Linked DNA regions of Homo sapiens. The protein of the gene in region 4 purifies or fractionates together with the protein of the main gene of each other region. This does not show direct contact. Each region holds a gene or a part of one and is shown on either strand. Other genes may lie near its edges. The genes, in order: ARG2, USP24, ARB2A and DHX34.

The links.
Region 1: the proteins of DHX34 (region 4) and ARG2 purify together in Homo sapiens (affinity purification with mass spectrometry; one large-scale study listed by BioGRID and IntAct). This does not show direct contact.
Region 2: the proteins of DHX34 (region 4) and USP24 purify together in Homo sapiens (affinity purification with mass spectrometry; one large-scale study listed by BioGRID and IntAct). This does not show direct contact.
Region 3: the proteins of DHX34 (region 4) and ARB2A purify together in Homo sapiens (affinity purification with mass spectrometry; one large-scale study listed by BioGRID and IntAct). This does not show direct contact.

What each region holds. Positions count from the first base shown.
Region 1 is NC_000014.9:67,638,124-67,645,731, reverse strand, and holds part of ARG2 (arginase-2, mitochondrial precursor), read right to left. Parts: intron 7,140-7,608; exon of another isoform or gene 6,019-7,139; intron 3,547-6,018; coding exon 3,369-3,546; intron 90-3,368; coding exon 1-89. UniProt on the Homo sapiens protein: May play a role in the regulation of extra-urea cycle arginine metabolism and also in down-regulation of nitric oxide synthesis. Extrahepatic arginase functions to regulate L-arginine bioavailability to nitric oxid synthase (NOS).
Region 2 is NC_000001.11:55,212,565-55,216,700, forward strand, and holds the start of USP24 (ubiquitin carboxyl-terminal hydrolase 24), read right to left. Parts: upstream 2,801-4,136; 5' UTR 2,550-2,800; coding exon 2,226-2,549; intron 1-2,225. UniProt on the Homo sapiens protein: Ubiquitin-specific protease that regulates cell survival in various contexts through modulating the protein stability of some of its substrates including DDB2, MCL1 or TP53.
Region 3 is NC_000005.10:94,099,502-94,107,109, forward strand, and holds part of ARB2A (cotranscriptional regulator ARB2A isoform 1 precursor), read right to left. Parts: intron 1-7,608. UniProt on the Homo sapiens protein: Plays a role in the regulation of alternative splicing, by interacting with AGO2 and CHD7. Seems to be required for stabilizing protein-protein interactions at the chromatin-spliceosome interface. May have hydrolase activity.
Region 4 is NC_000019.10:47,353,936-47,361,543, reverse strand, and holds part of DHX34 (probable ATP-dependent RNA helicase DHX34), read right to left. Parts: intron 6,506-7,608; coding exon 6,194-6,505; intron 3,679-6,193; coding exon 3,424-3,678; intron 1,577-3,423; coding exon 1,474-1,576; intron 1-1,473. UniProt on the Homo sapiens protein: Probable ATP-binding RNA helicase required for nonsense-mediated decay (NMD) degradation of mRNA transcripts containing premature stop codons. Promotes the phosphorylation of UPF1 along with its interaction with key NMD pathway proteins UPF2 and EIF4A3.

The DNA.
Region 1 (7,608 bases), on a different chromosome or scaffold from region 4:
GTGTGTTGATGTCAGCATGGGCATCAACCCAGACAACACAAAGGTCTGGGCAGTGTCGGGCATGGCCACTAATGGTACCGATTGCCAGGCTGCAAAGAACAAGTATAATCTTGAAGGCCCTCTGCTTGGCAAACATGACCGATAACAAACGTCCTCAGCCAAAACAACTTATACTCTCTCCACAGTGCAAAGCCAGGGCCTAGATGGAGACTGGGTTTGGGTGAGGCAAGACCTGTAGTTGTAGTTCTCAAAAATTAATCTTGAGTGATAAAGCCCTAGAGATTCGAAGCTGGTGACTTGCTACCCTGCAGTGTGACAGATGTCACTGCTGTCCTGTCCCCAAATCCGTATAATTTTATCCATTAGCCCTGCTCAGAAAAGAACCTCAAATATTTGTTCAATGAATGAAATCAAGTTAAGCCAGACAAGATGGTGTACACCTGTAATCCTGGCTACTCAGAGGACTGAGGTGAGAGGATCACATGAGCCCAGGGGTTCAAGACCAGCCTGGGCAAAATAGTCACACCCTGTCTCCAAAAATGAAAAAAAAAAAAGAAATCTAGGTAAATGGTACAGTCTATAGGTAACGACTCACCAAAATCTGTAAGAAAAGCTCTTGGAGACATTAACAGGGTAAACCATTAAAGACCTAATTTAGACCACTGAGTAAAAAGATGTATTGCATGTTACCTTATATATATTAGCATGGCATTCAATTTTTTTTTTTTTTTTTTAAGACGGAGTCTCGCTCTGTTTCCCAGGCTGGAGTGCAGTGGCGCAATCTCAGCTCACTACAACGTCCGCCTCCTGGGTTCAAGCTATTTTCCTGCCTCAGCCTCCCGAGTAATTGGGATTACAGGCACATGCCACCATGCCTGGCTAATTTTTTGTATTTTTAGTAAAGATGGGGTTTCAACATGTTGGCCAGGCTGGTCTTGAACTCGACCTCAAGTGATCCACCTGGCTCAGCCTCCCAAAGTGCTAGGATTACAGGCGTGAGCCACTATGCCCAGCCTCAAATATAAGATCTTAAAGTGTATTTCTGTTTTTGCCTTTCCTTGTCCTTGGGCTCTGCTTACATTAGCCAACTGTTCTGTCTCAATTCTAAGAATACACCTGATGAAATAAATGTTGGAAAGCTTCCCAGTAACCAAGGAATTTGACATAGATGGGAAATGCAGCTTAAGCATCTTAGGACTGCAACCATCCTTCTTGGTCAATATAGCATGAGACAGCTATTCTAGGTGCCATGTCCCACACTGGTTGGGTCTTTTGAGGAATAGCATGGTCTAGTGAAAAGGCAGTGGATTAAGTCAGAATACTAGAGTTTTAGTCCTGGAAGAGCTGTGTGACTGAAGACAAACCATCTAATTTCTTTAGATTTCAGTTTCCTTTTCTGTGAGATAGGGATAATAATAATACTTGGCCTGTGTAAATCAGAGTTGCTTTGATGATTAAAGTAGTAATATATGTTAAACTACATAAAAGGAGCAGTGACCTAAAAATGGCTCTTCTTGAAAATGTTCAACAGCTATTCAAGTTATGCACTTATCTCTTCCTCTCTAGAATTTCAGATTGCCTAAGCTTTAACATTGAGCTGGTAAGCAGTAACATGGCTGCAATATAGATAGCCACAGGAAAAGAAAACAAGATCTGTGGTAATCACATTGATCAGTGGTCCCCAAACAGTGAGACTTGACCAGAACTCAGAACAGCAGACAGACTTAATAAATTTCCAGAGACTACACTGAGAAAGGAGGCAGGAGACTTGCCCTCTGGTTGATTTAATTGAATGGCCTAGTCATCTCAGTAGGGAACCTGGGTGTGACCGTTTTCTTCAACCTGAGTCTTTTTTTTTTTTTTTTTTTTTTTTTTTTTTACTCCCAAGGAGGAATCTACCTGCTTCTCCAGATGTAACAAAGATTTCATTTCTGTTCAGTGATCTGAAAAGCTTTCTCAGCACCTCAGGGAAAATAATCACCAGAAGAGTCACACTGGATTTGAATCCCAGCTCTATTTCCTGGTTCTAGTCCTTGGATAAGTTATATTTTCTTTCTTATTTATTTATTTTTAAGAGACCTGATCTCACTGTGTTGCCCAGACTGGCCTCAAACTCCTGGGCTCAAGCAATCCTCCCACCTTGGCCTCCTGAGTAGCTGGGCCTGCAGGCATGCACCACTGTGCCCACCTTGGATAAGTTCTTATATATCTGTCCCTACATGCTTCCAGCAGTAAATGATAAAACCATATCTACCACCTAGCATTGTTAGCAGAATTAACTGAGAATATGTATGGAGTGCTCAATACTCCTAGTACTTCAGTGCCTTCTTCCTACTGAAGACCTTCATTGCTTATTTCAAATCACATTCCCTTGTGAAATCTATTTTAGTCCAGACTGATCTCTTCCTCCTTTGAAATTCTGTAGAATTCAATATTTTTGTTTATTCCATGTATATTTATTTCATCTAGGCCTTAATATATCACAAATTTCCTGCAATCTCTAGCACTGCTGAGAAAATATCAGAACAGTGCTCAATAAAGTACATGCTGATTCAGGAGGAGACAGGATCAAAGGACTGATTGCATGAGTCACTAGGGTCCATATTGTGGAGGCAGAAAATGTATCCACAGCTGGGCACAGTGGCTCATGCCTGTAATCCCAGCACTTTGGGAGGCCTTGGCAGAAGGATCGCTTGAGCTCAGGAGTTCGAGACCAGTCTGGGCAACATGGCCAAACCCTGTCTCTACAAGAAATACAAAAATGAGCCAGGCATGGTGGCATGCACCTGTAGTCCCAGCTACTTGGGAGGCTGAGGTAGGAAGATGGCTTGAGCCTAGGAGGCAGAGGTTGCAGTGAGCTGAGATCATGCCACTGTACTCCAGCCTGGGCAACAGAGCCAGACCCTATCTCAAAAAAAAAAAAAAAAAAAAAAAAAAAGAAAATGTAGTAACATGCCAAAGGGGATTTCTAACAGGTCTATTAGCAGAAATGCTAACAAAAACTTGCACATTCAGCCTATCAATGGATCTTTCTAATTCTCCAAAGTCATAAGATAAGTCTCAAGAAAGCTTTCCAGGAGACAAGCATGTTAACACAGTGCCTAGGAACCTTGCCTAGTATACCTCTGAACTTGCTGTGTCTGAATGTACATATTCTTACTGTGCAATGTGTCATACAAAGAAAACCACAGTGCCCCTTGAGCAGCTCAGGATCTTAGACATTTAAATGCTTGCTGTTCATTTTAATATCTACCCTAAAAATTCTGTAGGGTATTTTTCTCCAGATGAAGAAACAGATAAAGAAGCTAAGTTATGAGCCCCAAGCACCATGTAATCCATCCCCTCACCACGCCTGGCTCCCAGCTTACCTGTGGTCTCCTCCCAGTGTGACACAGCTGTAGCCATCTGACACAGCTCTGCTAACCACCTCAGCCAGTTCCTGGTTGGCAAGACCCACTGAGCGTGGATTCACTATCAGGTTGTTGTAGAGATCATCTTTGGGGACTGGAGTAAAACTCAAATCTCCAAAGTCTTTTAGGTGGCAGCCTGGAAGCAAATGAGGGATGACAAGATGAATTTTCTGTGCTATCTCCAACTCTTAACTAGCCTGGGCCACAATGATAATACGTGACAAAGTACACATCATAATCATTTTGTCACAGTAAAATTTAAAATGTCAAATGATTGTGGGAAGATTATCTCGATCCTATTATGAACAGTTTTGCAGATGTTGGAAACTGAAACTAAGAGATATCGATTGACTTAACCCAACAATAAAAAAATGGTTAACCATTAGACCTCAGATATCCTGGAGTGATAGAGTAGAAATAAAATATCAAAAAGAACCAACAATCTTAAAGAAAATTAAGAACCAACAATTTTAAAGGAAATTAAGTACTATTAATTTAGCAAAAAAATACACAAAGAGAGTCTCATTTTTTTAAACTTTCTTTTTGTAGAAATGGGGTCTTGCTATGTTGCCCCAGCTGGTCTCAAACTTCTGACCTCAACTGATCCTCCCGCCTCATCCTCCCAAAGTGCTGGGATTATGGGCATGAGCCACCTGCCTGGCCAAGAAATTCACATATTATAAACTTTTATAAATAGCCAATCTGAAACATCCTAAAAGAAATATCTAATATTTATTGATTATTTACAAGATCCCAGGCATTGTTCTAGCTGCTTAACATAAATTCTTATTTAAGACTCAAAACAGTTGTGTGAGGCAACTAAAATGTGCCTATTTGGTGGATGAGGAAACTGAAGCAAAGAGAAGTAACCGCCCAAGTTACACAGCTATTAAGTGCCAGAATCAGGATCCAAATCTAGGCCATCTGGCTCCAAAGTTTGTACAGGTTGAGTACCCATTATCCAAAGGCTTGGGACCAGAAGTGTTTTAGATTTTTTATTTTTTTCAGATTTTGGAATATTTGCATTATATATATATTGAGATATCTTAGGGATGGAACTCAAGTCTAAACACAAAACTTGTGTTTCATACACACTTTATACACATAGCCTGAAGGTAATTTTATATAATATTTTAAATCATCTTGTGCATGAAACAAAGTTTGTGTGCATTAAACCATCAGAAAACAAAGGTGTCACTATCACAGCCACCCATGTGGACAATATGATTGTTTGGCATCACCATCTTCCTGACTCTGAATTTATATGCTACTGATAGGCAGTTATTTTCTTACTTTTTCACACATAAGTACTTAAAAGCAGAAAATATGACATACCATTAATACAGTGTGTTCAGGGTAACTTGTAATGTCATATTGGTGCTCAAAAAGTTTCAGATTTTGGAACATTTCCGATTTTGGATTTCTGGATTAGGGACGCTCAACCTCTATCCTTTACTATGCAGTTTGTCTCCTAAGGAATTCCTCATGAGTCCAACACTTTAAGAACTAGTGCTATATTCTCACAGCTTTGAATATTTCCCCACCTAAGTTGGATGCTACATTTAGGATGAGGACTAAATAATCTGACTGTATCAAAAAGGGATCTGAACTATCAGAGAACAGAACATTGACATAGATTATATTCTTAGGGTCCTGGTATTGGTGGGAAAGGGGCAGTAACAAGATAAGACGTGGCGTATCTTAATATTTGCAGAGATTTGTGTTAAAGGTTCGGATTAAGAGCAGCATGGACTCATCATGAATTTAAATTATAATTTTGAGCTCTACCTCTTGAACCCAAACTCAATCCAAAGCCAAAATTCTGAAGAAATATAAAAATTTGAGGAGCAGTGACCATAACAAAAAGCCATGAGGCCAACCAAGGAATTGCCACCGCAAGAGATATTGGAAACAAGACAGAAAACTTTGTCCTATTCTTTTTTTCCTCCCCAGCCCTTGTGTCACCCAGACCTATTCTTAAAGGTGAGATACACCTACAGCAAGAATTCTGTATTTATCTTTTGGTCATTACACTTTAAGAAATAGTCATATAAAAGGCCCCAACCTGGAGAAGATCCAGACAACCAGATAAAAAGGTAGCAGAGCAGGGGTAGGAGGAGAAAAATATGACAACAGGCCAAAGACATTGTGAACCAAGATAAAAATGTGAACCAAATAAAACATCTATAAAAATCTTTTATTTTTTTAAAAAAAGACAAAAAGGTTTGAGTAAAGTCATTATGGACTTCACCAAATCTCAAAATATGGAGAGGATACTTTAGACTTAAGAGAATGAAAGCTTTAATTAACCTTCAAGTCAATATCAAGTCTTTCCTCTGTCTGTTGACAACACAATCCTGGACTGCACAGACTTTTTTTTTTTTTTTTTTTTTTTTTGAGACAGGGTCTTGCGCTATCATGCAGGCTGGAGTGCAGTGGCACAATCTCGGCTCACTGCAACCTCCACTTCCTGGATTCAAGCAATTCTCCTACCTCAGCCTCCCAAGTAGCTGGGATTACAGGTGTGCGCCACCACGTCTGGTGAATTTGTTTTTGTATTTTTAGTAGAGACAGGGTTTCGCCATGTTGGCTAGGCTGGTCTCGAACTCCTGACCGCAAGTGATCCACCTGCCTCGGCCTCCCAAAGTGCTGGGATTACAGGCATGAGCCACTGCACCCAGTGTACTGTACAGATCTTGAATGGACAATTCCTGGATGTTTCTACTTTCACCTCCATGTTTATCTCAGCACTCTCCTTAAATCACATCAACCATTAGGTTCTTACTAGATGTAAGACACCAGGGTATGCCTGGTGTTTTATAATATTAGGTGTACAATTATAAAAGATTTATAATCTTTATAAATTTATATTTTGGTAATTGCACTCTAAGGAATAGTCATATAAAAGGCCCCAAACTGGAGTTAAATAATATTAACTAACGTTTCAGAACTATTTGCCAAGCACTTTCATTCAATCCTCATAGGACCAAGAAGAAATACAGGGAAATTAAAGTGCTCAATCCAGTGGATAAGTCACAGAACTTTGGGACTACCCAAGTCCAATCATGCAAACCAGGATGTAGACTCAGATAAACGTGACAGAAAACAGTACTCACTTGTATTAGAAAAAAGCTGCACAAAGCCTAAAAAGGAACCTAAAGAGAATTTGGCAATCTTACAGTAACGTTCCCAGGAAGAGAGACTGAATTTCATAGAAGGATTTCAGTCGCTAATTCAGGCCACCACTCTGCTCTCATTACAGGTGCTAGAAGGGTTACTAACTTCTGTCGGGGGTTCATCAGATTAATTCCCAACCTGGGTAGTGGATTCTGTCCACATTGTCCAACTCCATTTACTCCGATGCCATCTCACCAAACAGCATTCTGGCTATTCAGTTGGTTTCCCACATGCCTTAATATGGGCAAAAGCTTCTAGACAGTGGACACTGGAAGGACTACTGCTTAACATAATTATGCACGGGCATTTTGGTTGATCCAGCATGGTTAGCATGAGTCTGGGTCTGAAAGCCTGATGAGCTATGCACTCAGCAACCTTGTGTTTCTGCATCCACAAAGCTAAGGGCCAGCCTCCTCTAAAGGGATTTATACCTTGAGAGGCCCTGCCTGAGTGGCCTACCTTCCTGCTCCCAACTCTGTTTTTTCTTTTTTCCCCCTAGAATATTCAGGAAGAACGAACTCAACTCTATAATTTGCACAGTTTCAGTGCCAGGTAAGGACTTGGGACAATGAGTCCTAAAGGAGTCAGGGGAAGTTCACTGAGGATCAGGGGCGTCAAAGAAGAACTCCTATGACAAATAGTTTGTACTTGCACTGTTTTGTTTTGAAATTCTCTGTAAAATTGGATAACGTGTATATCAGAGGTCCCAAACCTACTGCCCGGGTTTTACTACTGTATCCTTTCAGACTTTAATCATTTTTTTTCTTTTTTTTTTGGATTATTTGTAGAGACAGGGTCTCACTGTGTTTTCCAGGCTGGTCTCCAACTCCTGGGCTCAAGTAATGCTCCCATCATGGCCTTCTAAAGTGCTAGGATTACAGATGTGAGCCACCATGCCTGGGCTAGTTATAGGCATAATACATAATATTATTTTAAGTAAGGTTATTAGAGTAAATTAACTGTCATAGCAAAATATGTTTGAGCCCAAAATATGGCTCAAACAAGTTTATTTCTTGTTTGT
Region 2 (4,136 bases), on a different chromosome or scaffold from region 4:
ATCAAGAGCCTCAGTTTCCCACTGTGTACACCAAGGATGACCAAGAAGTTCCATAGGTGGCATGCATTAAGATTATTAAACCACAGAGGCACATTCTGCGTTAAATGTTTCCAAAAGGCTCCTGTGTGTCAGGAAAGTCTCAGCCTGCCAACCTCTGCCAATACGCTTCGTGGGTAAAGCAGCCTCAGTCACCAGCTCCTCTTGAACTCTTAAAAGTAAACGGTGCAGCTTCCCTCCCCCAGGCCAAATCCACAGGTCTAGGAGAAATGAGGACTTGATGCACTGCTTCGAAAAGATGGAGATTTTATGGATTTTAATTTACCGCAAACCAAACTCCTTAGCCTGCCATTCACGTAAGAAGCCACTCCCAATTCTTTGTACTTACATGTACTGGCAGTAAGCTAAGGTTAGCGCTAATGTTAACATGAATGCACCAAGCATTGTAATTTAAATTGATTTTCCAATCACAGGAAATTAAAAGGTATGACAAAAGAAAAAAAGAATCACATTTCTCACATAATGAGGATACACTGAGCTTTGCAGAGTTATACAAACACCTTCTGAAAAAGCAACGGCTTTCTTCTTGATTTCAAAACTGGGTCAAAAACTAGAAGGAACGAGGGAGGAGTGATAGGAACTGCCAATGAGAAGCTGATTTCTTAAAATGACTTAAGTATGGTTACTCAATTATATGGGAATTTAAAAAAATTCCCAAACTAGGAATAGTAACAATCTTTATTTCCATATACTAGTCAACGATACAGCTAAGTTAGTGGGTTACAGAGGGCAATCTAGCAACTGTGTCTAAGTGTGGAAGCCAAAGAAATCTTGTGCAGAAACCTGTTCTTTTTAAGTGCCACCTTCTTGTTCAAGCTACTTCAGCCCGAGGAACTGTTGCAAAAGCATACAATTAAAAGGATATAACACTGCTCAGGAAAAAGTGTTTCAAAAGGCTTAGCTTCACTAAGCTTAATTCTTCATTAAGAACGAACCAAATTCGTATCTCTACCTAATAACGCAATCCCAATAATTTGAGATCTGTGCTTTTCTGTGGTCAGGCCAAGCTGCTCTACTGGCCCCTGAAATGAACTACCCAACGAATCTGACCAAAATTCCTGCCATGAGCTACTATGTTTCTGCAAAGTAATTATTCAAAAGCACTGCTGCTTCTGGTCGATCTTTTTTCTTTATTATAGAAGAGTCCGTTTTCTTCCCCCACGTTCCTTGCTCACACCCCAAACTAAACAGGCATAGTCTTCTCCACCTAGACTTGAGGTCTCTGATCAAAGCCATTAGCCTCAAGACTCCTCCTCCACCCCCACTGCGCTCCCACCCTGTTCCGCGCCCCTCTGCATAGCACCCTCAGTATGACTACCATCTCTTTCCCCGGTCTAATTTTCTCTCATTTCTGACCTTATCGATGACCAGTACTCCCTCTTTACCCAGACCTGGTGCCAGCTCTATCTTCCAATTCCAGTCCCCATCCCTGCCTAGACCCTCCTCAGCTCCCACCCCTGCCCAGGCCTCCCACCTCTGCCCTCTCAGTGCAATCCCCACTGCTCTCATACCTGATTTTATTCAAGTCCTCATTCCTGGCCGCGGCCCCTTCCCTCTTCATTTTAAATCCTACTCAATGCCCCCCCTTTCCGACCCTTGGCTAAAACCCCAACCTCACTCCTAACCCCAACAGTTTTCCTGTGATCCTGTCAAAGACCACTACTCTGGCCGGCCCACACCGCTTTTTCTGACTCTGAGCCTGGTGCCTCCGCCAATCCTTCACTGAAACCTCGTGCCACAAAATCTCCGACCTAGCCTAGTGCACTAGTACCCCATTTCCGACCCCCTACTGCACGCATCCTTCCCACTATATGCTCAAGTGTCTGTCCTCCCATCTCGGATGATAGCCCTGGAGCCTCCTCCCCATCGTCGGCGTGCATAGCCGGAAGCCTAAGGGACCCCTCCTCACCCCAACCCACAGCTCCGCTGCGCATCCCTAATTCCCTTTCACACGCCTCTCCTATGGGTCCCTCTCCCCACTTACCCCCAATCAAGTGACTTCGGTTCCCAACTGGAGCCTGGGGCTTCTCTCTCTCTCTCCGCCCCGCCCCCACTAAAGCCCCAGTCGAATGCCCTCTCTCCCCACACCAAGCCCAGCGGGGTGTGTCCCCTCCCAGGAACTCCAGCCCAGTGGCTTCCCACAGAGGTCTGGGGTTGCCCCTCCTCACCTCCGCGTCCACCACCTCGTGGTAGGCGGGCGGGGGGTCGAAGCCGCCCCCGCCTCCGGTGCTCCCGCCGCGGGAGGGGCCGCCGCCGCCGCCGTCACCTCCGCCGTCGCCCCGCGGGCCCCCGCCGGGCCCGGGGCTGGGGCCACCGCCGCTGTCCATGGGCTCGTAGCCGCCGTAGTCGAGGCCCGGCCGCTCGTTGGTGAGCAGTGCCACGGCCTCGTTAATGTCGTTCTTGGCCAGGCGCAGGGCCTTGCGGATGGTGGCGGGGTCTGAGAAGCCCATGCACAGCAGCGTGGTCATGTGCTGCTCCTCCTCCGATTCCATGGCTTGGGCCTCCTGGCCGCCCCGGCCAGCGCACGGCGAAGCTACGGGTCCCGGGCCTGGCGGGCCGCGCGGCGCACCCTCCGCGCCGCCTCCGCGCCCAGGTTGGCCCCTGCGTTCCTGCCCCGGGTGCTCCGCAGCAGCCGGGCCAGGCTGGGTGCGGGCTTGGGTCCTGCGAGCCGAGCTAGTGCGGTGAGGCGCTCAGGCGCGGCTGCGGCCCGGCCCAGCCCTGCGCGCCGCCATGTTGGCCTCCTCCCCCTCCGCCTCCTCCTCCCCGGGCGGCGGGGCCGCGCCTCGGCTCCCGGAAGCGGCACGGGAGGCGACCGTGCTCGCCGTTGGCAGGCTAGGGTTGGCGGCGGCGTATTCTGTTTGTTTTAAACGAAGGAGCGGAGGGAGGGGCCGCGCCGCGGAGCGTGCCTAAGGTGAAAGGGCTGCCGTGCAGCCAGGCAGAGGCGAGGAAGGCTTCTCCATCGTCGCCACCGCCCGCCTGTTTCGCCGGCAACAGGTTCCCCCGGGACGGGAGGGGCCGCAGCGCCGCGCAGCTCGCAGCGCTGAACGTCGCGGAAATCCCTTGGCCGGCCGAGCCTCCGCAGCCGCGACCCGGCTTCTCTCCGTCCGAGTCCCCCGAGCCTCTCCGAACCCCCGTTGGACTTCCCCTCCCTGGCCGGCGCCGCCCGACCCGCTCCCCCATCCTAGAGGGAATTCCCTGCGCCGCGGCTGTGAGGCACCTCCACCCCGGCCTGAAATGCACCGCAGTCCTGAAGGAAATCCACCCTCATCCCACGCAGATTCACCCGCAACGCTGCCTGAATACGCCTCGCTGCCCACAGAAATTCCTGCCCAAACCAGACGCGTGGACCACCCAAGACGAAATTCACACTCGACCCTAGCCCCGCCAGCCCTTGCCGAAATCACCCTAAACCCGTTGAAATTAATTCCCAGCTGTCCGAATTTTCCTTCCAACATTAACTGACTACCTGTCTCCGCCAAGCTGACTGAACTCTACCGAACTCTTACCCTGAAAGCCCCTGAGAGTCCAAAATATATTTTTCCAGCCCGAAATCTAAATCCCAGTTCTCTGTATGAAAACCTCCAGAAACCCAGACTCTTACTTCCTTCGGCCACGGACTCGTTCGAACATCGTGGACATCACCTTCCCACATTTTTACCGCAGTCTTTGGCTCCGATTCTTTGTCCCTGCCTCTTGGGCAGCATCCTATCCCTGTTTCTTTCCACCTTTGAGGATTCCTCTACCTCTTTAAAGGCCTGCTTTCTTTGCTTTCTCTTCTCACCTTTGGCATTGGCACACTGGGGTCATATCTTTAGTTCCCTTGACTCCACCATCTAAGCCAAGGGTGTCCAATCTTTTGGCTTCCCTGGGCTACATTGGAAGGAGAAAAATTGTCTTGGACCACATATAAAATATTCTAACGCTAATGGTAGCTGATGAAACTTTTAAAAAATCTCATCATGTTTTAAGAAGTTTACGAATTTGTGCTGAGCCGCATTCAAAGCCGTCCTGGGCCTAAGTCCTTGCTATTTTTCCTCTTCAATTTCCTTCAATCCATAGTTCTCTAGGTTATTTTCCCA
Region 3 (7,608 bases), on a different chromosome or scaffold from region 4:
TGGTCCCAGCTACTCGGGATGCTGAGGCAGGAGAATCGCATGAACCCGGGAGGCAGAGCTTGCAGTGAGCCGAGATCGCGCCACTGCACTCTAGTCTTGGCAACAGTGAGATGACTCCGTCTCAAAAAAAAAAAAAAAAAAAAAAAAAAACCGAAAATCAATAAATGTGATTCATCACATAAACAGAACTAAAGACAAAAGCCATATGATAATCTGAATAGGCTTTTGATAAAATTCATCATGCCATCACGTTAAAAATTCTCAATAAACTAGGTATTGAAGGAACATACCTCAAAATAAGAGATATCTATGAGAAACCCGCAGCCAACATTACATGGAATGGGCAAAAGCTGGAAGCATTCCCCTGAAAACCGGCACAAGACAAGGATGCCCTCTCTCACCACATCTATTCAACATAGTATTGGAAGTCCTAGCCAGAGCAATTAGGCAAGAGGAAGAAATAAAGGGCATCCAAATAGGAAGAGAGGAAGTCAAATTACCTATTTGCAGATGACATGATTCTATATCTAGAAAACCCCATGGTCTGAGCCCAAAAGCTCCTTCAGCTGATAAACAACTTCAGCAAAGTTGCAGCATACAAAATCAATGTACAAAAATCACTAGCATTCCTACAGACCGACAACAACCAAACTGAGAGCCAAATCAAAATGGCCATCCCATTCAAAACTGCCACACACACACAAATACCTAGGAATGCAGTTAATCAGGGAGGTGAAAGAGCTCTACAATGAGAGTTACAAAACACTGCTGAAAGAAATCAGAGATGACACGCAAATAAATGGAAAAACATCCCATGCTGGTGGAAAGGAAGAATCAACATCATTAAAATGGCTATACCGCCCAAAGCAATCTATAGATTCAATGCTATTCCTATCAAACTACCAAAGGCATTCTTCACAGAACTAGAAAAAATTATTTTAAAATTTTATGGAACCAAAAAAGAGCTCAAATAGCCAACACAACGCTAAGCAAAAAGAACAAAGCTGGAGGTATCATGTTACCCGACCTCAAACCATACTACAAGGCTACAGGGACCAAAACACCATAGTACGAGTACAAAAACCAGCATATAGACCAATAGAACAGAATACAGAGACCACAAATAAGGCCACACATCTACGACCATCTAATCTTTGACAAAGCTGACAAAAACAAGCCAAGGGGAAAAGACTCCCTATTCAAAAAATGGTGCTGAGATAACTGGCAAGCCATATGCAGAAGACTGAATCTGGACCCCTTCCTTATACCATATACAAGAATAAACTCAAATGGATTACAGATTTAAATGTAAAACCCAAAACTATAAAACCCCTGGAAAACAACCTAGGCAATACCATCCTGGACCTAGGAACGGGCAAAGAATTCCTGACAAAGATACCAAAAGCAATCGCAACAAAAGCAAAAACGGACAAATGGGATCTAATTAAACTTAAGAGCTTCTGCACAGCAAAAGAAACTATCAACAGAGTAAACAGACAACCTACAGAATGGGAAAAAAAATCTGTCTTAATCAGATGCATAGTTGGCAAAAATGGAGATTCAGGAGAAAGTCCAGCATCCACAAGGAACTTAAACAATGTTCTAAGAGAAAAACAAACAACCCTATTAAAAAGTAAACAAAAGACATGAACAGATACTTCTTAAAAGACATACATGTGGCCAAGAAGCATATGAAAAAAAGCTCAATATCACTGATCATTAGAGAAATGCAAATCAAAACCACAATGAGATACCATCTCACACCAGTCAGAATGGCTATTATTAAAAAGTCAAAAAATAACAGATGCCTGCGAAGTTGTGGAGACCCTGATACATTGTCGGTAGGAGTGTAAATCTGTTCTACCATTGTGGAAAGCAGTATAGCGTTTCCTCAAAGAACTAAAAGCAGGGCTACCATTTGACGCTGCAATACCATCACCGGGTATACACTCAGAGGAAGACTATCTACCATAATGACACAAGCACGTGAATGTTCACTGCAGTACTGTTCACAACAGTAAAGATATGGAATCAACCTAAATGCCCATCAATGACAGACTGGATAAAGAAAATGTGGTAAATACACACCATGGAATATTACACAGTCATAAAAAAATGAGATAATGTCTTCTGCGGGAACATGGATGAAGCTGAAGGCTATCATCCTTAGCAAACTAACACAGTAACTGAAAAACAAATACTGACTGCATGTTCTCACTTGTAAGTGGGAGCCAAATGATGAGAACTCATGAACATAAAGAAAGGAACAACAGACACTGGGGTCTACTTAAGAGAGGGAGGTGAGGAGGAGGGCAATTAGCAGAAAAGATGACTATTGGGTACTGAGCTTGATACCTGGGTGATGTAGTAATATGTACAACAAACCCTGTGACACATGTTATCTATGTAGCAAACCTACACACGTATCCCCAAACCTAAAATAATTTTTTAAAAAAAGGAATAACCAGGAAAAAAAAAAGAATACTAAAGCCCTCCCCGTCATAGTGTAAATAATGAATAATTACAAAATGAAACTTTCCTCCTGAAAATTAGCTTTAACTATGTTATATCATAGGAAATAATATTAATAATTCCAAAGTAAAAAAAAAAAAAAAAAGTCAGAGTGTCTTCCTACCTCCAAATGACTGCACCACCTGCCAAAGAATGGTTCTTAACCAGGCTGAAATTATAGACATAGAATTCAGAATCTGGATGGCAAGGAGAATCATCAAGATTCAGGAGAAAGCTGAAACCCAATCCAAGGAATCTAAGGAATCCAATAAAATAATACAAGAACTTAAAGATGAAATAGTCATTTTAAGAAGGAACCAAACTGATCTGATAGAGATGAAAAACTAAAAGAATTTCATAATACAATCAGAAGTGCTGAGAAAAGAATAGACAAAACTGAGGAAAGAATCTCAAAGTTCAAAGACCAATTCTTCGAATGAACTCAATCAGACAAAAATAAAGGCAAACGAATAAAAAGAATGAACAAAATCTCCAAAAAACATGGGATTATGTAAACAGACCAAACATATGACACATTGGCATCCCTGAAAGAGAGAGACATGAGAAAGCAACTTAGAAAACATAATTAAAAATTATGAAAATTTCCCTAACCTCACTGGGGAGGTAGACATTCAAATTCAGAAACTGCAGAGAACCCCTGTAAGATGCTATTCAAGACAACCATGCTGAAGACAAATAGTCTTCAGATTCTCCATGGTCAAAGTGAAAGAAAAAATCTTAAAGGGAGCTAAAAAGAAGGGAGAGGTCACCTACAAAGGGAACCCCATCAGGCTAACAGCTGACCTTTCAGCAGAAACCCTACAAGCCAGAAAAGACTGGGGACCTTTATTCAGCATTCTTAAAGAAAGGAAATTCTAACCAAGAATTTCATATCTAGCCAAACTTTGCTTCATAAGTAAAAGAGAAATAAAATCCTTTTCAGATAAGCAAATACTAAGGGAATTCACTACCACCAGACCTGCCTTATAAGAGGTCCTTACGGAAGCACTAAATATGAAATTGAAAGGCCATTACTGGCCACCACAAAAACAAACACACTTAAGTACACAGACCATTGACACCATAAAGCAACTACAAAATTAAGTCTACATAACAAGCAGATAACAGCATAACAGGATCAAATGTTCACATATCAATACTGACTCTGAATGTAAATGGACTAACTACACCACTTAAGAGACACAGAGTGGCAATTTGAATAAAGAAACATGACCTAACTACATACTATCTTCAACAGACCCCTCTCACATGCAATGACACCCACAGACTCAGAGTAAGGGATAGAGAAAAATCTATCAAGCAAACAGAAAACAAAAAAGAGACAGATTGCTCTTTTAATTTGAGACAAAACAGACTTGAAAGCAACAATAATCAAAAAGGACTAAGAAGGGCATTAAATAATGATAAAGGGTTCAATTCAACATGAAAACTTTAACTACCCTAAATATACATGCATCCAACATTGGAGCACCCAGATTCATAAAATAAGTTCTTAGAGACCTACAAAGAGACTTAGATAACCACACGATAATAGTGGAAGACCTCACCTTGACACCCACTGACAGTACTAGACAGACCATCAAGGCACAAAACTAACAAAGATATTCAGGACCTAAACTTGACATTTGACCAAATGGCCCTAACAGATATCTACAGAACACTGCACTCAACTACAACAGAATATACATTCTTCTTATCTGCACATGACACATACTGTAATATTGACCACACACTCAGCCATAAAGGAATTCTCAACAGATTCAAAAAAAAAAAAAAAAAACTGAAATTATACCACATTCTTAACCACAGTACAAGAATAGATCTCTCAAAATCATATAATTATGTGGAAATTAAACAATCTGTTCCTGAATGACTTTGGGTAAACAATGAAATTAAGACAGAATTCAATAAATTTTTTGAAACTAATGAAAAGGAAGAAATGACATACCAGATTCTCTGAGACAGAGCTAAAGCAGTCTTCAAAGGAAAGTATATAGCACTAAACACCTACATCAAGTAGTTAGAAAGATCTCAAATTAACAACCTAAAATCACACCTAGAGCAACCAAAAAAAAAAAAAGTAAACTAACCCCAAAGCTAGCAGAAGAAAAAACCAAAATCAGAGCTGACTGAACAAAACTAAGACATGAAAAACTATACAAAAGGTCAATGAAACCAAAACGTCGTTCTCTGAAAGAATAAATAAGATTGACAGACCACTAGCTAGACAAATAAAGAAAAAAGGAAAGAAGTCCAAATAAACACAATCAGAAATGACAAAGTGAACATTACAACTGACCCCACAGAAATAAAAAAAAAAAACTCTCAGAGACTATTAGGAACACCTCTACCTACACAAACTAGAAATCTTAGAGAAAAATGGATAAGTTCCTCAAAACATACAACCTCCCAAGATTGAATCAGAAGGAAATTGAAACCCTGAACAGACCAATAGTGAATTTCAAAATTGATCAGTAATAAAAAGCCTACACCCAGAAGAAGTCCTGGAAAAGATAGATTGACAGCCAAATTCCACCCAACATATAAAGAAGAGCTGAAACCAACCCTACTAAACTATTCCAAAAAATGAGAAGGGACTCCTCGTCAAATCATTCTATGAAGCTAGCATCATTCTGATACCATAACTTTGTAGAAACACAACGAAAAAAGAAAACTTTAGACCAATATCCCTGATGAATATAGATGTAAAAATCCTCAACAAACACTAGCACACCAAAACCAGCAGCACATCAAAAACCTAATCTACCATGATCAAAATGGCTTTATTCCTGTTATACAAGGTTGGGTCAACATATGTAAATCAGTAAATGTGATTCAACACATAAACAAACCTAAAAACAAAAACCATATGATCATCTCAATAGGTGCAGAAAAGGCTTTTGATAAAATTTAACATGTGTTAAAAATTTTCAACAAACTAGACATTGAAGGAACATACCTTAAATAAAAAGAGCCAGTTATGACAAATCCACAGCAAACATCATACTAAATAGGCAAAAGCTAGAGACATTTCCCTTGAAAACCGGAACAAGACAAGCATGCCCACTCTCACCACAACTATTCAACATAGTACTGGAAATTTCAGCCAAAGCAATTAGGCAAGAGAAACAAATGAAAGGCATCCAAATTAAAAGGAAGTCATACTATCTCTGTTCACAGATGATATGATTCTACACTTATAAAACCCCATGCTCTCTACCCAATGGTTCCTAGATCTGATAAACAACTTCTGCAAAGTTTCAGGATACTAAATCAATGTCAAAAAAATCAGTAGCATTTCAGCAATAACGTCCAAGCTGAGAGCCAAATCAAGAATGCAATCCCATTCACAATAGCCACAAAAGAAATAAAATACCTAGGCATACAGCTCAACAGGGAGGTGAAAGAGCTCTACGATGAGAATTACAAAATGTTGCTGAAGAAATCGGAAACAACACAAATGGAAAGATATTCCTTACTCATGGATAGGAAGAATCAATATTATTTAAATGGCCATGCTGCTCAAAGTAATTTACAGATTCAATGCTACTCCTATCAAGCTACCAATGACATTTTTCACAGAACTAGAAAAAATATCTAACATTCATATGGAACTGAAAAATAGCCTGAATACCCAAAACCATCCTAAGCAAAAAGAAAAAAGCCAGAGGTATCACACTATCTGACTTCAAACTATACTACCAGGCTACAGTAACCAAAACAGCATGGTACTGGAAAAAAAAAAAAAACAGACACATAAAACAATGGAACAGAATAGAGAACCCAAAAATAAAGCCACACACCTAAAACCATCTGATCTTTAACAAAGTCAACAATAAGTAATGGGAAAAGGACTCCCTATTCAATAAAGAGTGCTGGGATAACTGCCTAGCCATATGCAGAAGATTGAAACTGAACCCTTTCCTTTTACCATACACAAAAATCCATTCAAGATGGATTAAAGACTTACATGTAAAGCCTTAAACTATAAAAACTCTAAAAGAAAATCTAGGCAATACCATTCTGAATCTAGGCCCTGGCAAAGATTTCATATGAAGACTCCAAAAGCAACTGCAACAAAAACAAAAATTGAAAAGAAAGACCTAATTAAACTAAAGAGCCTCTACACAGCAAAAGAAACTATCAACACAGTAAACAGACAACCTACAGAATGGGAGAAAAAAATTCGCAAACTATGCATCCTACAAAGGTCCCATAGCCAGGATCTATAAGGAACTTAAACAAATTAAAAAGCAAAAAAACCCATAAAAAATGGGCAAAGGACATGAACAGACAATTCTCAAAACAAGATATACACATGGACAACAAACATATGAAAAAATGCTCAACATCACTGAGCTTTAGAGAAATGCAAATCAAAACCAAAATAAGAACCATCTCACAACAGTTGGAAGGGCTATTGTTAAAAAGTCAAAAAATAACAGCTGCTGATGAGGTTGTGGAGAAAACTGAATGCTTATACAGTGGTGGGGGGAATGTAAATTTCAGCCACTGTGGAAAGCAGTTTGGAAATTTCTAAAGAACCTAAAACAGAAAGAACTGCCATTCAACTCAGCAATCCCATTCCTGGGTACCTACCCAAAGGAATATAAATCATTCTAATAAAAAGACAACATGTACTCATATGTCCATCGCAGCACTATTCAAAAAAGCAAAGACATGGAATCAACCTACATACCCATCAACAGTGGACTGAACAAAGAAAATGTGGCACATATACACCACGGAACACCACACAGCCATAAAAAAGAATAAAATCATGTCCTTTACAGCAACATGGATGGAGCTTCACATTATCCTATGTGAATCAATGCAGAAAAAAAAAAAAAAAAAAAAAACAAATACCACATGTTCTCACTTATACATGAAAGCTAAACATTAAGTATACATGGAGAAAGAAGGAAACAATACACAATGGGGTCTACTTCAGGGTGGAGGTTGGGAAGAGGATGAGAATTGAAAAACTACCTATCGGGTCACTGCACATGTACCCCCTGAACTAAAATAAAAGTTGGAAAGGAATAAAAGTTTAAAAATGAAATAAAAACTACTCCT
Region 4 (7,608 bases):
GCCTCCCAAAGTGCTGGGATTACAGGCATGAGCCACAGCACCTGGCAGACATTATTTTTTTAATTTCTCTCTCTCTCTTTTTTTTTTAAACAGGGTCTCGCTCTGTTGCCCAGGCTTGAGTGCAGTGGCACAATCACAGGTCACTGCAGCCTCGATTTCCTGGGCTCAGGTGATTCTCCCACTTCAGCCTCCTGAGCAGCTGGGACTACAAGCACGCACTACCATGCCTGGCTAATTTTTGTATTTTTAGTAGGGGCGGAGTTTCACCATGTTGTCCAGGCTGGTCTCAAACTCCTAACTTCAAGTGACCTGCCTGCCTTGGCCTCCCAAAGTGCTGGTATTACATGTGTGAGCCACCGCGCCCAGCCGGGACGGCCTGCCATTGTCATTTTTCAGATGAGCCAACCGATACATGAAGTGTCAGTCACATGACCCCAGCCACACAGCCAGCACTAAACCTGGCCAGGCAGGCTCCAGTGTCTCCAAACACTATGCTATGCTGACTTCCCAGAGAACATTCCAGTCAGGAAGACAGAAAGTGAGCAAACAGAGCAGCACATAAAATAGAATGTCGGGCTGGGCGTGGTGGCTCATGCCCGTAATCCCAGCACTTTGGGAGGCTGAGGCAGGCAGCACTTGAGGTCAGGAGTTCGAGACCAGCCTGGCCAACATGGTGAAACCCCATCTCTCCTAAACATACAAAAATTAGCCGGGCGTGGTGATGCATGTCTGTAATCCCAGCTACTTGGGAGGCTGAAGCAGGAGAATCACTTGAACCCGGGAGGCGGAGCTTGCACCATTGCACTCCAGTCTGGCAACAGAGCAAGACTCCGTCTCAAAACAACAACAACAACAACAACAACAACAACAACAAACAGAATGTCAATCCCCCTCATATGACAAGCAACAGCGGATGGAGGAGGGGATATCTCTTAGACAGAGTGGACAGTATGGGCCTCTCTGACGGGTGGACATTTATGCGGGCCCTGAAATGAGGTGAGGGCGTCACCTGTGTGGATACCTGGAGAAAGACAGCTCTCGGCAGAGAGAACAGTACAAAGGCCCCAGGGCAGAAGCAGGCTTGGAAGGTGTGAGAAAAACTAAGATGTTGCCATTGGTCCATGGCCCCACACATCGTCTTCCAGCATCCCAATTCTGGAAATCCAAAGTCTGAAATGCTCGAAAATCTGAAATGTTTTCAGCACTAACGTGACCCTCCAATGAAATGCTCACTGGAGGATTTCAGATTTCTGGATTTGACATACTCAAATAATAAAATTGATACAAATATTCCAAATTCAAAAAAACCCGAAATTCCAAACACTTCTGGTTGCAAGCAAGCATTTTGGATATGGGAAAGTCAACTGTACTTCCCAATCCAAGCTGGTGCGCCCCTGCCACACACGCACACCTCCGGACCCCATGCTCCTAAGTCCTTGGGGGTGGTGGGTAGGGGCTCATGGTGGTCCTTACCGGAATCTACTACGAAGCGGATCCCGTCAATGGTGACTGAGGTCTCAGCAATGTTGGTGGAGAGGATGCATTTCCGGACTCCAGGGGGTGCCACATCAAATACCTGGGAGGAAGGGAGGGGGTGGTGTCAGGAACTAACTCAGCCCCGACTAACCTATGTGTCCAATTTCTTGCCCACCCCCGTGTCAGCAGCTTCCCTGGAACCCTTTCCTCCTTCAGAGACCTCCCTTTTGGAGATGGCTCACCGTCCACCCCATCACCTGGGCCATCCTGGGCCCTCCCCCACCCTCAGACGGAGTCTTGCTCTGTCGCCCAGGCTGGAGTGCAGTGGCGTGATCTCGGCTCACTGCAACCTCTGCCTCCCGGGTTCAAGCAATTATCTTGCCTCAGCCTCCCGAGCAGCTGGGATTACAGGTGCCCGCCACCATGCCCGGCTAATTTTTGTATTTTAAGTAGAGACGGGGTCTCACCATGTCGGCCAGGCTGGTCTTGAACTCTTGACCTCAGGTGATCCGCCTGCCTTGGCCTCCCAATGTGCTGGGATTACAGGCATGAGCCACCACACCTGCTCCCCCGACCTGAACATCTTGAACTTTTTTTTTTTTTTTTGAGACAGGATCCCACTCTGTGGCCTACAATGGAGTGCAGTGGCGTGATCACAGCTCACTGCAGCCCTGACCTCCTGAGCTCATGCGATCCTCCTGCATCAGCCTCCCAAGTAGCTGGGATTATAGGCACATGCCACCATGCCCAGCTAGTTTTCTTCCGTTTTGTAGAGACAAGGTCTCACTGTGTTGCCTAGGATGGTCTCTAACTCCTGAGCTCGAGTGATCCTCCTGTCTCAGCTTCCTGTGCTGGGATTATAGGCATGAGCCAATGTACCAGGCCATCTGGAACTTTTCTTGAAATCCTTCCCTCCTCCGACAGCCCAGCCCCTGCCCTGGTCCAGGCCTCTCCTCGCCCACTCTGATCCTACTCCAGCTTCCCCTCAGATCTCTGGCCTGTAGACTCACATGGCAGCCAGAGGGATCTGCTGAAGCATAAACTGGCACTGCCCCCACTAGGGGAGGATCGCTTGAGCTCAGGAGTTTGAAACCAGCCTGCGCAACACAGTGAGACCTCTTTGCTACTAAAATTCAAAAAAAAATTAACGGAGGCCGGACACAGTGGCTCACACCTGTAACCCCAGCACTTTGGGAGGCTGAGGCAGGCAGATCACTTGAGGTCAGGAGTTCGAGACCAGCCTGGCCAACATGGCGAAACCCCGTCTCTACTCAATATACAAAAGATTAGCCGGACGTGGTGGCGGGTGCCTGTAGTCCCAGCTACTCAGGAGGCTGAGGCAGGAGAATCGCTTGAACCCGGGAGGTGGAGATTGCAGTAAGCCACGATCATGCCACTGCACTCCAGCCTGGACGACAGAGTGAGACTCTGTCCCAAAAAGAAAAAAAAATTAATGGAGTTTAGTGACACACACCTATAGTTGCTACTTGGGAGACTAAGGAGAGAGGATCACTTGAGCCCAAGAAGTCAAGGCTGCAGTGAGCCCTGATCGTGCCACTGCACTCCAGCCTGGACAACAGAGCAAGACCCTGTTTCAAAAAAAAAAAAAAACTGTTTTGGAACACAGCCTCACCCACTCAGTTTATGGCTGCTTTCATGCTGCAACAGTGGGGCTGAGTAGCTGTGACAGACAGAGAGCCCATGGTCGATAGGACTGACATCATCTACTCCGACCCTTTATAGAAAGTTTGCCGACCTCTGGTTTAGAGCATGGGCTCCGGGGCCAGACTACCTGGGTTCGCAGCCTGGCTCTGCCACTAGGTGGCTACGACTTTGCACAAGTACAGCCCCCGAGCCCTGTGTTTGTGGAGTTACACAAGTCCTGTGCGCAGCCACCCCTGACTCATGCAGACCCCCCGCCTGCCCCACTCGGGCTTCCTGTGATACCTTGTCCTGGTCGGCCACAGACAGGGCGCTGTGCAGTGGCAGTACCACCCAGCGCTGGGTGTGGCTGGCATAGGTCTGGGCAGCCTCCAGCACGGCGCTGATCTCCGCCATGCCGCTGAGGAAGACGAGGAGGTCACCCCGCTCCTCAGGCGGGTACTTGTGGTCAATGGACTCCAGCACCCTCAGGAAAGGCCGCGGGTCCAGCTTCTCTGACTTGGACGTGGTCGGCTCCGCCTCCTGCGGCTGGTACACAACCTGAGAGGAGACAGCCCCAGGTAGAAGCACACCCTGTCCCTCCAGCTCAGAGCAATGGGCTGGGGAGGCTGCAGGCTGACGGGGGAGACCACAGGCTAACGGAGAAGACACAGTGCAACGGGTCCAGGCTGGTGGGCAACTCTGTTCCATGTGGTCATTCAGGGATCCAGGCTTCTCCTTTCTCATTATGCCACCATCTCATTGGGCAGGATTTCTCAAAGTCAGCAAGATTGACATTTCAGTCTGGATAATTCCTTGTCGTGGGGGCTGTCCTGTGCATCGTAGGATATCTAGCAGCATCCCTGGCCCTACCCACTAGATGCTAGTAGTCTTCTCCACTGCTTGTGACTATTAAAAATGTCTCCAGACATTGCCATATGTTCCCTCTGGGGCAAAACCACCCCTAATTGAGAAACAGTCAGGTGACAGACAGCACACTCCAGCTAGATAATTTCTGAAGGATGTAATAAAAAGACAAAGTAACAAAGCAACTGCAAGGCTTGTGGGGTGCTGGCAATGTTTGACTTTTCTAAACCTGGGTGCTAGCTACACAGATGTATGTAACTGGTGAAAACTAATTAAGCTATATACTTACAATGCATGCATTATCTTATGTTTAGAGTAGCTTCAACAAGAAAAATATTCTAGGTGATGAAACCAGGATTAAAAACCTAGAAATCAGGTTGGTTGGCTGACCAGGAGAGGACCCTGAGCCTGAGCCAGGTTGGTTGGCTGATTTCCCAGCATAGTTGGCTCACACCTGTAATCCTAGCTCTTTGGGAGGCCAAGGCGGGAGGATTGCTTGAGCTCAGGTATGCGTGACCAGGCAGACAACATAGCAACACGTCGTCTCTACTAAAAAAAACAAAAAACAAAAAACAAAAACCCTAGAAAACATTTCTCAGGAAGCAGCCTCATTCTTTTTGAGACAGGGTCTCGCTCTGTCACCCAGTGGCATGATCTCGGCTCACTGCAGCCTCCACCTCCCAGGTTCAAGCAATTCTCCCACCTCAGCCTCCTGAGTAACTGGGATAACAGGGGCGCACCACCACTCGAGCTAATTTTTGCATTTTTAGTAGAGACGGGGTTTTACCTTGTTGGCCAGGCTGGTCTCGAACTCCTGACCTTAGGTGATCCACCCGCCTCGGCCTCCTAAAGTGCTGGGATTATAGGCATGAGCCACCACACTCGGCTCGCACTCTCTCTCTCTCTTTCTTTTCTTTCTTTTTTTTTTTTTTGAGATGGGATCTTGCTCTGTTCCCAGGGTGGAGTGCAGTGGAGCCATCTTGGCTCACTGCAACCTCGACCTCCGGGTTCAAGCAATTCTCCTGCCTCAGCCTTCCAAGTAGCTGGGATTACAGGCGTGCGTCACCATGCCCAGCTAATTTTTGTATTTTTAGTGGAGATGGGATTTCACCATGTTGGCCAGGATGGTCTTGGGCTCCTGACCTCGTGATCTTTCTGCCTTAGCCTCCCAAAGTGCTGGGATTACAGGCACCAGCCACCGTGCCCGACCCATTCTTTCTTTTTTTATGGCTGCTTAGAAGGCAAATTGATGGGCATCCGGAACCAGAAATCACAAGAGACAATGAAGTTCTTCCTGTAAGTCTTGACTATACAGACAAGGATAACTCACTAGGACAGTGTTTCTCAATTAGGGGTGGTTTTGCCCCAGAGGGAACATATGGCAATGTCTGGAGACATTTTTAATAGTCACAACCAGAGGAGAAGACTACTAGCATCTAGTGGGTAGGGCCAGGGATGCTGCTAGATATCCTACAATGCACAGGACAGCCCCCACGACAAGGAATTATCCAGACTGAAATGTCAATCTTGCTGACTTTGAGAAATCCTGCCCAGTGAGATGGCAGAGTAATGACAAAGGAGGAGCCCGGATCCCTGAATGACCACATGGAACAGAGTTGCCCAACAGCCTGGACCAGCCACACTGTTATATGAGAGAAATAAACTTCTCTTATTTGAGACTTTACATTTTTGGGTCTTTTTTTTTTTTGAGACAAAGTCTCACTCTGTCACCTAGGCTGGAGTGCAGTGGCGCGATCTCGGCTCACTGCAAGCTCCGCCTCCCAGGTTCACGCCACTCTCCTGCCTCAGCCTCCCGAGTAGCTGGGACTACAGGCACCCACCACCATGCCTGGGTAATTTTGTTTTTGTGTTTTTAGTAGAGATGGGGTTTCACCATGTTAGCCAGGATGGTCTCAATCTCCTGACCTCGTGATCCACCCACCTCGGCCTCCCAAAGTGCTGGGATTACAGGCATGAGCCACGGCGCCCAGCCATTTTTGGGTCTTCTTGTAACAGCTTTTACTCTAACAAGCACTTAGCACTCTAACCAGCTGATTATGAATGCTCAGAAAATGGTAGCTTTAAAAAAAGAGAACATCTTTAAATGAAAGAGATGGGAGATACAGCAGCAGAGAGAAGAGGCATGTCCAGGTTTGGACAGAGACCAGGTTGGAGGTCTGGGGATGTGGGAGGAGGGGGAAGTACTCACCGTGATGGGGAACAGCCTCCCAGGCACCTGTACCACAGGGGCATTGCTGAAATAGCTGGAGAAGAGCGAGATGTTGATGGTGGCCGACATGAGGATGACCTTGAGGTCAGGCCGCGTGGGCAACAGGCGCTGGAGGACGCCCAGGAGGAAATCGTTGTGGAGATGCCGCTCATGGACTTCATCCACAATCAGGACCTCATACTGGGGCAGGCTGGGTTCCCGCTGGATTTGTCGCAGGAGCAGCCCCACTGTCAGGAATACAATCTTGGTGGCCGCCGAACGTGTGCTCTCAAAGCGGATCTGGTAGCCGACCTGGGGTGGGAGAAAGAAAGGATCAGGAGAGGACCCTGAGCCTGGGTACCAGCCCCTGGCCCTGCCCAAATTGAAAATCTAAGCAGGCCGGGTGCGGTGGCTCACGCCTGTAATCCCAGCACTTTGGGAGGCAGAGGCGGGCGGATCACCTGAGGTAGGGAGTTCGAGATCCGCCTGACTAACATAGAGAAACCCCATCTCTACTAAAAATACAAACAAAATTAGCCGGGCGTGGTGGCGCATGCCTGTAATCCCAGCTACTTGGGAGGCTGAGGCAGGAGAATCACCTAAACCCGGGAGGCGGAGGTTGCAGTGAGCCAAGATCGCACCATTGCACTCCAGCCTGGGCAACAAGAGTGAAACTCCATCTCAAAAAAAAGAAAAAGCAAAAAGAAAATCTAAGCAAATACCATGCCTACCCATCAGACTCTGGAGTCCAACAGCTTGGGTTTGAATCTCACCTCTGCCACTTAGTGCCAACTGACCTTGGGCAGGCAATGCCATCCCTTATAGTTCTCCTCCTAGATGCTGTGAGAATTCCATGTGACAATGCACAGAAAGTATCTAGCACTGTGCCTCATGTATATATAATATTAACTATATAGCAATAACCTTTTCTTGAGTCCCTGCTATGTGCCAGGACATTATATGCCACTCTAAGTGCTTTATGTATATCAACCCATTTCATCCTCATGACCACCATGAGACAGAAGGACTATTATTGGCCTTCCAAGATGGCAGTTTGCATTGCAGTGATCGTCAAGAATTACCCTCGCAGCCCAACGTGGTGGCTCACACCTGTAATCCCAAAACTTTGGGAGGCCGAAGTGGGTGGATCACCTGAGGTCAGGAGTTTGAGCCCAGCCTGACCAACATGGTGAAACCCCGTCTCTACTAAAATTACAAAAATTAGCTGGGCATGGTGGCGGGTGCCTGTAATCCCAGCTACTCAGGAGGCTGAGGCAGGAGAATTGCTTGAACCCGGGAGGCAGAGGTTGCAGTCAGCCAAGATCGCACCAATGCACTCCAGCCTGGGCCACAGAGTGAGACTCCGTCTCAAAAAAAAAGTGATGAGCCTTTAGGACATTTCCCATTGTTTTGCT